Linked DNA regions of Homo sapiens. The protein of the gene in region 1 binds, or shares a complex with, the protein of each later gene. Each region holds a gene or a part of one and is shown on either strand. Other genes may lie near its edges. The genes, in order: MAP2K1 and KSR1.

Region 1 (7,000 bases):
TTTTTTTCATCTGCAAAAATGGGGCTAATGATAGAACCTACTTAGCATAGTTGTGAAGATTAAATGAGGTAGTACATAGTAAACTTCCAAAGCTGTTGGCTGCTGGTGCCTTTGTTACTGCCTAAGTGTTGGACCAAAGGAAACTGGAAGGTGATTTTCATTCATGGTGGTAGATTATGTGTTAAGGTGCCTTTGCTTCTGGACAATCAACTCTCCCTAGTTTGGTTTTTTGTACCATCTGCATCTACCTCTATGACTCATTGCTGTGTTACAATAGGAGGCATCTTTGTGTAGGCTGCCCAAGACAAACAGGGACTGTTTCCCTGTGTTTCATAGCACTAATGAGAGGGAAAGCTGTACACATCTTCATCTTTCACTTCTGAGAGTGTTCCTCAAGCAAAATGTTCCCTATCTTGGGCTACCAGCAGAAAGAATTCTGTTGCTTTCATGATTTCTGTGATTAGACCAGGGCACAATTTTGAACGTTATCAGACAATGTGAACTAAAGAGGAAGAAAATCCATTTTGACAGTAAAGAACTCTTGGTACCAAATTGGCAAGGTTGCTTTTCCCTTGGCACCTGTGCTTACCTCTAACATAGCCCTTACCCAGTTCAGAGATGGAGTTGGGTAATACGGGACCTGAAGTTGATGCAAGTTGTAGGGGTCCTCAAAGAAAAATCATGCAAAAATAGCTTTCTTTTGTGTATTTTGCAGAAACATGTGAGCATATTACTAGGGTCTTAAGTGTTAGAATGAGATAATGAGATAATATTGTTCCTCTGTTTAAAATGTTCTTCTGGTTCTATTGCAGTTACACAAAATCCAAACTCCTTATATTGGACTATGAGACTGAGTGATCTGCCTGTTGTCCCCACCACCCCCTCCCACCAATCTCTTTAACCACATTTCCTGCCACTCCTTTCTTCCACCACACTAGTCCTCTTTCACTTCCTCTATGGGATGGTCTATACGCACTGCAGGCCTCTGTACATGCTGTTCCCTTTGCCTGGAATGAATCACTCCTCCTTCCCTAGGTAGGCAGGAAGCAGTCTTCACCTATTTGCCTAAATGTCACTTCCTCTGAGATGTTTATAAGCATCTCAGAGGAATGTGGTCCCTCTTTGTCATGTCACCTGAGCTGCTGCTTTTTTTTTTTTTTTTGGTATGGGGGTCTTGGTATGTTGCCCAGGCTGGTTCTTGAACTCCTGGACTCCAGTGATTCTACCACCTCAGCCTCTTGAGTAGCTGGGACTATAGGTGGGTACTACTGTGCCTGGCGCTCACCTGAGCTTTTAATAAGACTTAATCATTGTAATTTTTCATTGGGGTGTTCTTAATATTTATCTCTCCTGTACACTATAAACTTTAAGCACAGCACTGCCTTTTTGTTTTTTGAGACGGAGTCTCGCTCTATCGCCCAGGCTGGAATGCAGTGGCACTACCTCGGCTCACTGCAAGCTCCGCCTCCCAGGTTCATGCCATTCTCCTGCCTCAGCCTCCCAAGTAGCTGGGACTACAGGCGCCCACCACTGCGTCCAGCTAATTTTTTGTATTTTTAGTAGAGATGGGGTTTCACCATGTTAGCCAGGATGGTCTCGATCTCCTGATCTCGTGATCCCAAAGTGCTGGGATTACAGGCGTGAGCCACTGTGCCCAGCCTGCACTGCCTTTTTTTGACTCACCACTCTGTAAGTACACCCAAAATAGTTCTGGCACATAATAGGTCCATAGATGTTTGTTGAGTCAGTGAGTGAATGAAATTTCTAATATTTGCACAACGGGTTTAATAAACCTTTTTATGTCTTTTCCTTTTCTTTTCCCCTTTATGCTCATTCCTTTTTTCCCCATTTTCTTTTGTTTTAGTCACCCACTCAACCATTCTAAGATATTTATATGGTTTTATAATTCCACCTGTTAGTCTGGTTATGTGTATACCCTTGGGAAGTAGAAGGATGGTTTTGTATGTATCTGCTTAGGATTCTAAAATGTTATTGTGCTACAAATCTGCATTTCATAGACAGGATAGAATAGGTTATGTTGAGGTAACAACCACAAAATCTCAGTAATTTAACACACTTTCAGGTCAGTGGGAGGCTCTGTAGATTGGAGTCCTTTAGGGATCCAGGCTGATCGAGGCATCGTCTCTCAAGTATACCTACATGAGGAGGGAATCTTGTGAAGAGCTACATTCAGGCTCTTAAAGTTTTGCCTAGAGGTGAGCCTTGTCATTTTTGCTGCCATTTCTTTGGCCAGAGCAAATCATGTGGCCATGTTGACCTTCAAGGAGGGCAGTGACCTTTTTGGAAGGGGGAGAACCACGAATATTTGTGTGTTTTTTTTGGGTTTTTTTTTTTTTTTTTTTTTTTTAAGAAAGGGTTTCGCTCCCACTGCCCAGGCTGGAGTATAATGGTGCGTGCCACCACGCCCTGCTAAGTTTTGATTGTTTTGTAGAGATGGGGTTTCACCATGTTGCTCAGGCTGGTCTTGAACTCTTGGGCTCAAGCGATCTGCCCACCTCATCTTCCCAAAGTGCTGAAATTATAGGTATGAGCCACTGTGCTGGTGCACCAGGAGTATTTGAACAGAAGCAATGACCATCCCTAAATTTTATATCAGTTTCTTCTTTGTTTTCTTTTCTTTTCTTTTTTTTTTTTTTTTGAGATGGAGTTTTGCTCTTGTTGCCCAGGCTGGAGTGCAATGGCATGATCTCGGCTCACCGCAACCTCCGCCCCCCAGGTTCAAGCTATTCTCCTGCCTCAGCCTCCTGAGTAGCTGGGATTACAGGCATGTGCCACCGTGCCTGGCTAATTTTGTATTTTTAGTAGAGACAGGGTTTCACCATGTTGGTCAGGCTGGTCTCGAACTCCTGACCTCAGATGATCCGCCTGCCTCAGCCTCCCAAAGTGTTGGGCTTACAGGCGTGAGCCACCATGCCTGGCCTTAGTTTCTTTTTTTAACCAATTTTGTTTTGAGCTCTATTCATGATGCTATACAATATGTGTCTAGTTCATTATTTCTCTTGGTTGTAGAGCAGTCATGTTTGCCTGCCACATTTTACTTATTTATTTCTCTAGAATTAGACATCTTTGTTGTTTCCCAACCCCTTGCTGCCTCAAACAGTCATGACCATGCCCATCCTTGCACATCCTTGTCTCCTTTGGATGTTGTGAGAGAGTTTCCTGTGGAATGTACTCAGAAGTGGAATTGCTGGGTCTTAGGGTACATTGTCTCTCCTTCCAGGATAAGGCATGTTATCTCTTTCTCTCTCTCTTTTTTTTTTTTTGAGACCGAGTCTCACTCTGTTGCCCAGGCTGGAGTGCAGTGTTGCAATCCTGGCTCACTGCAACCCCTCCCCACAAGGTTCAAGCAATTCTCCTGCCTTAGCCTCCTGAGTAGCTGGGATTACAGGTGCCTGACACCATGCCCAGCTAATTTTTATATTTTTAGTAGAGACAGGGTTTCATTATATTGCTCAGGCTGGTCTCCAAGTCCTGACCTTGTGATCTGCCCTCCTTGGCCTCCCAAAGTGCTGGGATTACAGGTGTGAACCACCGCACCGGCTATTAATCTCTTTCTTTAAAACAATACCGTTAATCCAGTTGCAGTAGTGAGGCAGGGTACCTCTCAAGATCTCACTTTTTCTTTGACCTTGGGCAAGTCCTTTCTACTTTCTGACTCTTGGTTTCCTTAATCTGTAAAGTGGAGGTGATAATTGTTTACAAAATCTTTACCATGGTGGCCTACAAGGCCCTACCTGACCAGGTCCTTAGTTTTCTTCCAGTGTTCTCTTCACTCATGCACTCTAGCCACACTGTCCTTTGTGCTGTTGGGTTGTAGGTTGGGCACATTCTTATCTTAGAATCTTTGCATTTGCCATTCCTGCTGCCTGGAAAGCTTGTCTCTCAAATACCGTATGACTTGCTTCCTCACTTCCTTCACCCCTCTGTTGAAATGTCTCTTCACAGAGGCCATCTTTGATCACTGTAATACAGAACTCCCTGTCATTTTCTACCCTTTGATTTTGCCTTATTTTTCTTTGTAGCGCTGATCACTAACTGATGTTACATCGTGTATAAGTATTTATCTTCTTCTGCCACCCCAAGTGTAAGCTTCATGATGGTTGGGGCTTTGCCTTGTTCATTGCTCAGTGTGTAGAACAGATTCTGGCACATAGAAAATACTCAGTAGATACCTGTTGATTAAATGATTGACTAGATCCTACCTCAGAGGAATACCTTTGAAGATGTATAAAATTTCTTTGAAGGCTATAAGGTGCCGAATAACCTTAGGAGGGTTCACTGCTTGGCCTTAGTAGCGTTCATGATTTTGGATTTTGAATTGTTTCTATGTAACCCTGAAACACTCAGACTTACTTATTGCATTCAGGGTGTAGTTCATAGCATCAGCAGTTCTGCCAGGTTTGTAAGGAACACACATCTGTTAGAGTGTGAAGGCCCTGGAGGAAGAAAGGTTGAGACAGGTTGATGTGCTTTTTTTTGTCTCTTATGGCTCTTTCTGAGATGTGTACCATGATGATAACCAGGAACTTTTTTTTTTTTTTTTTTTTTGAGAGACAGGGTCTTGCTCAGACACTCAGGCTGGAGTGCATTGGTGCTCACTATAACCTTGAACTCCTGGGTTCAGGGAATCCTCCTGCTTCAGCCTCCTAAGTAGCTAGTACTACCGGCATGTACCACCATGCCTGGCTAATTTTAAAATTTAGAGATAGGGTCTTGCTGTATTGCCCAGGCTGGGCTCAAACTCCTTGCCTCATGCAATCCTCCCTCCTTGGCCTCCCAAAAGTGCTGGGTTTACAGGCATGAGCCACCATGTCTGGCCTGATAAGTAGGAGCTTTTGAAGTGGTTTCACACTGATTTTGTAGTTTTGAACTTGGATGCTTCTTTTGGGTAGTTGATGCAGTAACTAATACTGGTGCTGTCTTTCAGAACAGCTTCATGTGAAAAAGGCCTGCTTAAGCCTGTGTCTTTGGGAAGAACATCTCTGCCGCTGTTACAGCAGATACAGTAATAGCAAAGAAAGTCTTAAAGATGATTTAGCCCATGGCAAGGAAATATATGGGACTCTTGTTTGAATATAAACACTCACAGAATTCCAGTTTCACTTATTTATGCACCTTTCAAAGAAAGGAAGAAGATACTGTGGTAGAGTACAGTAGTCCTCCCTTATCTGAGTGGCATATGTTCCAAGACCCCTAGTGGATGCCTGAAACCACAGATATCAATAGTACCAAACCCTGCATATACTGTGTTTTTTCCTATGCAGTATATGCCTATGATGAAGTTTAATTTATAAATTAGGCATAGTAAGAGATTAACAATAATAACCAATAAAAAAGAATTATAACAATATATTGTAATGACAGTTACATGAATGTGGTTACTGTACTCACTGTGGGTAACTGGAATTGTCAAAGCAAAACTACATTTAAGTGGGTACTCCTGTAGCTGTTGGCCCTGCCTTGCCTATCTAGCTTAATTTTCCTCTGTTTTTCCGTTCACCTGCTGTGGTCCACTTACCACTTTCTTTACTCTCCTCACTGTGCCACCAGCATACTGTTGCTTACCTTCTTACATCTGTCTGGTCTTGCTGACATGGTTTTTTTTTTTGTCTGAAATGCCCTCCTCCACTTTCTTGCATGATTTTTTTTTTTTTTTTTTTGAGACGGAGTCTCACTCTGTCACCCAGGCTAGAGTGTGCAGTCACATGATCTTGGCTCACTGCAACCTCTGCCCACTGGGCTCAAGTGAGTATCGTGCCTCAGCCTCCCGAGTAGCTGGGATTACAGGCGCACACCACCACGCCGGGCTAATTCTTGTTATTTTTAGTAGAGACGGCGTCTCACCATGTTGCCCAGCCTGGTCTCGAACCCCTGACCTCAGGTGATCCACTGCCTCAGCCTCCCAAACTGCTGGGATTACAGGCGCCTGGCCCTCTTGCATGTTTTTATTTTTGTTTTATACTTGCCACTACACTTTAACTTCTGTGAAAACAGGGACTGTGATTGTCTTGTGTACTGGTATTTCTCCACCGTCTGCTGTGGGGCCTAGAATAAAATAAATGGTACCCATCTTTTTTGTTTTGTTTTGTTTTTGGAGATGAGTCTCACTCTGTCCCCAGACTGGAGTGCAGTGGCGCGATCTCGCCTCAGTGCAACCTATGCCTCCCGGGTTCAAGCGATTCTCCTGCCTCAGCCTCCCAAGTAGCTGGGCTACAGGTATGCGCCACCACATCTGGCTAATTTTTGTATTTTTAGTACAAAATTTAAAAATGATGGCCTCGATGTCGTGATCCGCCCTCCTCGGCCTCCCAAAGTGCTGGGATTACAGGTGTGAGTCACCGTGCCCGGCCCTTTTGTTTTTTTGAGATGGAGTTTCACTCTTCTCATCCAGGCTGGAGTGCAGTGGCATGATCTTGGCTCACGGCCACCTCCGCCTCCCACATTTTCCTGCCTCGGCCTCCCAAGTAGCTATGATAACAGGCACACACCACCATGGCCGGCTAATTTTTTTATTTTTAGTAGAGACAGGATTTCACCATGTTGGTCAGGCTGGTCTCGAACTCCTGACCTCAGGTGATATGCCTGCCTCAGCCCCACAAGGTGCTGGGATTACAGGCGTGAGACACCGTATCTGCCCCGGATGGTACCGATCTTTCAAGATCTTACATAAAGCTTATCTCCAATGTGTGTAGTCTTTTCTGAGCAACTCCATGCCATGCTCAGTTACATCACTCCCTACTTAGTTATAATAGTTCTTTTTTCTTTTTTTGAGACAGAGTTTTGCTCTTGTTGCCCAAGCTGGAGTGCAATGGCGTGATCTCGGCTCACTGCAACCTCTGCCTCCTGGGTTCAAGCGATTCTCCTGCCTCAGCCTCCCAAGTAGCTATGATTATAGGCGCACACCACCACTCCCAGCTAATTTTTGTATTTTTAGTAGAGGCAGGGTTTCACCATGTTGGCCAGGCTGGTCTTGAACTCC
Region 2 (7,007 bases), on another chromosome or scaffold:
TCGTAGCCATAGAGGTATACATTTTAGGCAGCCATTGCTGCACACCTGCCGCATGCCTGCACACCTGCCGCATTGCTACACAGATGGCCGAGGCCAGGGTTCCACCAGCAAGGAGATTGCAGTGTCCTAAAGACAAACAGACACACTGTAATGAAACCTGCACACATCAGGACTCTTTCTTGTCACCTTTGTATTCCTGGCTCCTAGTACAGTCCCAGGAACATTATAGTTGGGCACTAAATATTTAATGTGCATGAATGAATGTGAGCAAAGGGTGATACCATGCCAAGTGCTGTGATAAAGCCCAGATGGGGGCCTCTGCATCCACCTGGGGGACAGGAGGAAGAGTCTCTGGAAGAAGGTCGTCAGGGCTGGGTTTTGAGCCAGAACTATCCCAGCAGAGACCAGGAGCATGGGGCTCTTAGCAGTTCAAGGAGGGTGATGTGAGGCAGCGAGGCCAAGCTCTAATCAGACCGTGGGCAACTTGCTTAACAAGCTGGGCCCTGGTTTTCTCCGTGACGAAAGAAAAGGCTCCACTAGGTGGACACTGGCATTCAGAACATCATTCCAGATTCCCCAAAAACCATATAGTCCCACCTTCTCATTTCACAGGCAGGAAACTGAGTCACAGATGGGGCTGTTCCCTGCCCAGCCCCTTCGAGGAAAGCATGCGGGCTTTCCTTTCCTGAATGAGTCTGTGTCAAAGCTTCCTGTTCACAGTGTTTACTTTCTACACGCTTGCCCCCTAATTCTCACTTTCTCTTTTCTTTCCATTGATCTTGTCACTTTTTTATTTTCGGGGGGTGGCGGATGTGCTGTTCTGTCATCTCCCACTTTCCCATCACCTGATTCCTCCACCTGTCCACACGTGCCTGACTCCATCACATGCCGGGGCCGGACTGCGCTCTTCCCACGCCTGGTGGAATGGTCGCTGGGCACTCCCAGTCGCTGGAGGAGCCGCTACTATGGAAAAGGACGCTACGGCCACCCTGACTTTAAGAGCTCCTGTCCGATTCTGGAGGAATAGTGTGTTCCTGTTACTTCCTTCGCTGGCTGCCTGTCTCTGGTTTTCCTGACACAAGCCCTGCTTCCTTTCTGTCGCCGCTTCCCAGCTTCTCCCATCTTTGTGTCATTTATTCTCGCAAACCAAAGTGAGGTTTCTGCAGCTGAAATGGCTTCCAGCAAGGGTCACACAGGCTTGCATTTTTCGCTGGGTGAGAGAAGAGCCACAGCATGTGGCGGGGCCTTTGTCCACACCATGAGTGAATGGGTGGCTTGTCCCTGGGTCGGAGAAAATTCTGGTCATTGATTTGAGCCCCCAGGATCCCAGTCCCCCTGGCCAGAGCTCAAGAGAAGAGAATCCAGTTAAGCAGAAATACTCTTGGAAGTAGATTTTACTCGTCAAGGGCTAAGGAGCTGTGGGCATGTTCCATCCTCTTTATAAACGTGCTGCAACTGTGCCCTGCGGGAGCTTAGAGAGGGTTCTTTGTGCCCAGGATCCCTTCTGAGCATGCAGTGCAGCCAAGCCTGGGGGATGGAGTCCAGGATGGCCCTTTCTCTCTGGAAGAGAAAGGGAGTCCCCTGCCCAGCTGCTCTGGCCAGACCTCTAGCTCCCGACAGGCTCTGCATTGGGGCTATGATTCTGATGCTGTTCTTTGCTTTCTTCTCTTTCCCTCTGTAGGTTGTAGGCCTGGCTGCCTTGCATGCACCAGGGGCTTTCTTCCTCCTAATCAACAACTCAGCACCGTGACTTCTGCTAAAATGCAAAATGAGATGCGGGCACTAACCCAGGGGATGCCACCTCTGCTGCTCCAGTCGTCTCTCTCGAGGCTACTTCTTTTGCTTTGTTTTAAAAACTGGCCCTCTGCCCTCTCCACGTGGCCTGCATATGCCCAAGTAACTGCTCTCAGAGGATCCCACTAACTGAGCTCCCTCCAAGGCAGTCTGGGCAGCTTCTAACTACCTTCCTGGACATGACTGATTGCTCCCGTGTTCTTCTGAGGGCTGGTCTTGTTTTTGTTTGGGTGGCTCTGTCTCACTGCTAACACCTTAGTGAGATGCCTTCCACCCTCCTGAGCACACCAGCCTCCCACTGGGTGTGTGCCTAGTGCGGGGCGGGCGGAGGTTGGGAGGGTGTTGGCTTGGCTTTTAACCTGTGGGGATTTTGTCCAACAAGGAGTGGAATGATTTCAGAGCTGCCCTGAGGCTGGCACCCTGGTCACAGGAACCCTCTGCGCTGGCTCCTGTCTCAGTCCCCTCTGTAGAGTTAGATCAGAAGACACAGAAAGTTCTGTGGCCATGAAAGATACCAGCTTGGAAGGGTTGTGTCTTCAGTGGCACCCTCAGAAAAATTGTCTTAAAGCAAAGAGGTACCTGGCTCCAGACAATTTTTCTGATGAAAACAAAGTCTCTGCCCCGTCCCCACCCTGCCACCCTGGCAAAGTTACTTCCTTTACAGCTGCCCAGTGTACCATAGACCAGACCCCAGGTCAGCATTTGTCAAGAGCATGGCTGCTGAGTCCCCTGTGGCAGTCAATGCACTGTTTACCAAATGCAGGTTTCTGTTCTCCCTCCCCAGCAAGACCTGCTGAACCCAGATCTCTGGAATGGGGCCCTAGGAATTTGCATTTCAACCTGCTTCCCAGGTGGCCCTGATGCACCCCAGTATTAGAGTTTATTGCTAAAAGGAACATGCCCTGTCACTCCTGGTATCCTGGGAGTCATGTTTCTCTTCTCTCTCAGTTCTACTTGGAGCAAGAGCTTTCCTGGGCTGCAAATGAGAAAACAATTCCTAGGAACCCACAGCAGTACTGAGCATGCTGGGAGCTTGGGACTTGGAGATGAATGAGCCACCGTTGCTGCTCCAAGTAGGACTACTTGGAGTGTAGCTGAGGCCTTGGACGCAGTATGACCAGGGGCAGCTCTGCCAGGGCTGTTGGCCAATCAGTCATTTTCATTTCTTGTTGGAGGCCAGGTCCTCTGCTGAACTCATTTCCTAGCTAGTGTTACCCTAATTCTGATGAAGATCAATGGGGCTATAATTCTTGTTTTTGTTCCTCTTTGCAGCATTAACAGCAGCAAAGTTGTACCCCGGTTTGAAAGGTTTGGCTTGGGCGTCCTGGAGTCCAGTAATCCAAAGATGTAGCCAGCCATATGGTTTTTCGCTGCTGATCTCTTTCTTTTTAAAATGTGTTTCTGAAACATCCCAACAACCACCACGACAAAAAAACACTGCCTGCCCAGCGCTGCAAACCAGGAGCACACGTCCTAGATTCAGACTGTTGGCCATAAACCCCACTCGGGAGATGGAGCTGCACCTGCTATTTCTTAAAATGACACCACCAACAACCAAACCTGTCATGACAGACAGCAAATGTTTACACGTATATTTCTCCTGAGTGAACCTGATGTTTTACAATAGGTAATAATAAAAACAGTCTGTGCAGATGCACTGGCACTGACGGCCAGGATGGCGGAAATGGCCATCCCCTCTGAGGACCTTGTAGGCGGTGAGGGACCCATGCTGGGCCAGAAGGAAGACAAACATGGTAATTGCAGCTGTTCTTGGGGTAGGGCGGGGAGCCCAGAAGGTCTGATCTGGCCTCTGCTTTTTGGCCCAAGACTCCATCAGGGAAATCTATCTAGGGCTCTCCCCTTGTCCTTTCAAAGGGATACTGCCCCTTCCTCGTCTTGCAGAGGAAACCCTGGCTAGGAACTGAGCTAGTTTATGGAGTCTGGAATTCCTGGAGAGCTTGGGTTCACCTTCTCACCCCTGTAATCCAGGCTGCTCCTGCTGGAAAAGTAGAAACAGAATCCAAAAAAGGTCTGGACTCACCCGGTGGTTCCCAGCCAGGGTTTCTGCTGCAAGGTGAGGAAACATCCATGGCTTGTACAGATGTGAGTCTTTGATGAAGCCCCCAGGCAGGCACCAAGGTGATGGGACTCAGGGCCTTGGCTTTTAGATACATCCCAGTCCCTGACTGACATCTGACCATGAGGGCTGGATGGGTGGGAACAAGGAGGAGTAGATGGCAAAAGTACCTGAGCCCACTTCCCAGCCACAGGGTGACCCTGGCACTGTAAAAACCCTTTGTCAGTCATGCCAGAAGGTTCTAGAACTGCCCACCTCTTCCATTTCAGTCCTGCTGAAACCCCTTAGCCTATTTCCGACTCCTCTGTCCATGCTCTGAGTTCAGCTGGGCAGTGTGTGGGCTATCACCCCTTTCATTTAGACCTACCTAGCTGGCCCCCATCTGCAGAGCCTTCCTTAGCACCATTAGGCCTTCTACTTGTGTCCATTTGAAGCAGGAGGGGCTGGATTTGGAAAAGTCTTTGAAGTGAGAGCACCACGCTTGTCTTCGTTAGAAACTCTTAACTGCAGAAAAAAGTTCCAGATGGCAAGGGAGCCCTTAAGTGGAGATTAGGTTGCATTAGACTCCAAAACCAGAAAGGAAAAAGGGTGATGGGAGTGGAGACGTGATTGGATTCAGGCCCAGAACCTGTGACCATGCTCTGAGCTCAGACTTGGGGAGGGAGGGGTGTGGCTCCCACCCCTTCCAGTTAAGACCTGCCTAGCAGAGCCCCAGTCTCCAGCCCCTTCCCTAGCACCAGAGTCTGGTCAAAATGCCACAGAAAATGAGCTGCTCTGCCAGCAAGCTGTGGAGCTGCCTCCTCTCCAGGCCTGGCATCCCTTGGTCAGCCCCTCCTGGGAGGGCACAGCCGTATTACAGTGCCAGTGTGCCTGGCCATCAGCATCTTCACCCTTCCCAGTCTGTGTGGGGAGGCTGTAAACCCCGTGGATTCAGCTCCGTGTGGAGTTTCTGTGCTATGGTGGGACTGCTCATTTTGCCCCATCATCCCTTTGGCCTCCCACACACCTGCCCCTTCCCAGGGATCACGTGTGTCTCCAGCCTTTCACCTTTCTATTGCAATGGTGGCCTTTGTCCAGGCAAGAGCAGGCCTGATGGATGTACTGGTGAGCCCCACAGTTGGATGTCAGCTCAGCCGTCCAACTGGGAGGAACAGTAGGCTCAGTTCCTCCCTGACCCCTGACACCAGGCCGCAGTGGGCATGCACAGGCCCACAGAAAGTCAGTCTGGGTTTTGCTTTTCTCGTGAGCATCACAGTTAAAGAAGCGCTCATTGAGCAACTACAGTGCACTTGGTCTTCTGCAAGTGCTGGGCACCTAGAGATAGGAACAGTCATGGTCCCTGCTCTTAAGGAACTGATGACCTGGTGGGGCCCTGTTGTCTTCAAGGAACCCAGAAGCCACTGGGCCCCAAAGGTGGAACTGAAGGACTGGGGGCAGCTGGCTCTCAGCCTGCCACCTCTGCACTGCCTGCCTTTAAAGAACCCCACCCCACCCCATGATGGCCCCCTCTGTTCCCCTTGTATTTCAGTGACTGTGAATTGAGGTTAGGAAGGCACACCTGCCCTTCTGTGTGCTCTCTCCACACGAAGGATGACAGATACTGTGAATTCAGCCCTCACGGCCAACTGTGAAGGGGATGGAGAAGGCTGGGAGGGCTCGGGGAGAGCTCTTAGGGGCTGCGGAAGTCCCCACGGGGGTCTGAGAGTGGAGCCCAAGCTTTGGCCCTCCAGGCATCCCCAGTTTCCAGCCTCACCTCTGAAGCCCTGCTGCCTTTAACCACCAGAGCCGCAGCCCCCTGGGTTTCTGTCTAACTCGAAGTCTTGAATCCTAGCTAGTTTGGGGTTGTGAGCAGTGTGTAGCAAAGTTGATCTCTCCATGTCACCAAATCAAAACACCCTCTGTCATCCTACGGCATTTCCTCTTGAGGTCACAGAGAGGAATGGCAAGCCCTGGAAACCTGTGTTATTCTGTGTTGATTTGGTGTGGGGGGAGGGTGGAGACGTAAATGTGAAGCCAGTTGGAGTTTGTGCTATGCAGCAGTGTTAGCCAGGATCTCATCAGCGTGCAAACCTAGCATCTTCTGTGGCCACAAGCCACACACTTGCTTTTTTTGAATGTGATGTAAAATTTGTACAGTAAAGTTTTTATATTTTCTATCAACTACATTTGTCTTCCAGACATGCTATTAATTTAAATTAAAATGGTTAGTATTAACAAACATGCTGTATCGGGTTTTTTTGCCACTGGCAAGAACATGCCCTCTGTGCTAAGCCAGGCCTGGGTGTCTGGAGTTTGTGAATAAAGTTATACCAAGGTGTTCTGGGGCTTGTCTTTGCTTTGGTCAGTTCCAGCTGAGTCCTGGGGACCATTTGGATGGGTGGCATGGGAATGGATAGGTCTGGGGTGACTGAACCCCTGGTCTATAGATTAAGGAGCTCCTTCCAAAGGAAGAAGTTATGCCAGGACCTCAGTGGCAGGTGTTTCTAAACAGATGGAGGAATGGAGAAGGCACAGCGTCAATGGCCCACAATGCGCAGAGGAAGATCATCCAGGCCCCAGCAGCAACAAAGCCATGAGCAGGCCCAGCATCTCCTGAGCTGGAGATGCCTTAGCCTTATGGAAGCCTTGGAGGGATGAGGTGGTGTTCATCTGAATCCAATATCTAGGAGCCCCTCATTGCCAGTTATATATACAGATAGGTGGAGAAGAGGTACTTTCTAAACACCATCTCACTTTAATCCTCACAAGGCCATGAGGTAAGAATTGTGATGTTTCAGCTGAGGAAAATGAGAAACGGAGAGGTTAAGGTATTCACCCAAGATCACACAGCTGCAGGGTGGCCAATCCAGGACTCAGGCCACAGCTTTCACTCCAGAATCTCTCCAGAAGTCTAGGAATTTGCTGGTCAGACATTTACTGAGCACCTACTATGTTCATAAGACAGTGCTAGGTTGTGGAGCATTTTCCAGGATAGGCCGCGTGGTAGGCCACACATTAAGTCTCAATAGATTTAAACATAACATACAAAGCATCTTCTCCAACCACAATAGGATGAAGTTAGGCAGCGGCACTAGATTCTCATAGGGGCACAAACCCTATTGTGAACTACACATGTGAAGGATCTAGGTTGTGCGCT

What was found.
Region 2: the proteins of MAP2K1 (region 1) and KSR1 are in contact, whole or in part, in a crystal structure (PDB 9AXH), measured with the Homo sapiens proteins. Residues at the interface, in NP_002746.1 of Homo sapiens: Asp217, Ala220, Asn221, Ser222, Phe223, Val224, Gly225, Thr226, Arg227, Ser228, Met230, Arg234, Leu235, Gln236, Gly237, Met308, Ala309, Ile310, Phe311, Leu314, Asp315, Val318, Asn319; in XP_011523731.1 of Homo sapiens: Asn767, Gln768, Leu769, Lys770, Leu771, Ser772, His773, Leu776, Val784, Arg785, Met787, Thr788, Pro789, Asn823, Gln824, Ala825, Ala826, Glu827, Ala828, Ser829, Ile830, Trp831, Gln832, Gly834, Ser835.

Annotation. Positions count from the first base shown.
Region 1 is NC_000015.10:66,389,912-66,396,911, forward strand, and holds part of MAP2K1 (dual specificity mitogen-activated protein kinase kinase 1), read left to right. Parts: intron 1-7,000. UniProt on the Homo sapiens protein: Dual specificity protein kinase which acts as an essential component of the MAP kinase signal transduction pathway.
Region 2 is NC_000017.11:27,620,248-27,627,254, forward strand, and holds the end of KSR1 (kinase suppressor of Ras 1), read left to right. Parts: intron 1-945; coding exon 946-1,026; intron 1,027-1,681; coding exon of another isoform or gene 1,682-1,688; exon of another isoform or gene 1,689-3,066; coding exon 3,067-3,145; 3' UTR 3,146-6,188; downstream 6,189-7,007.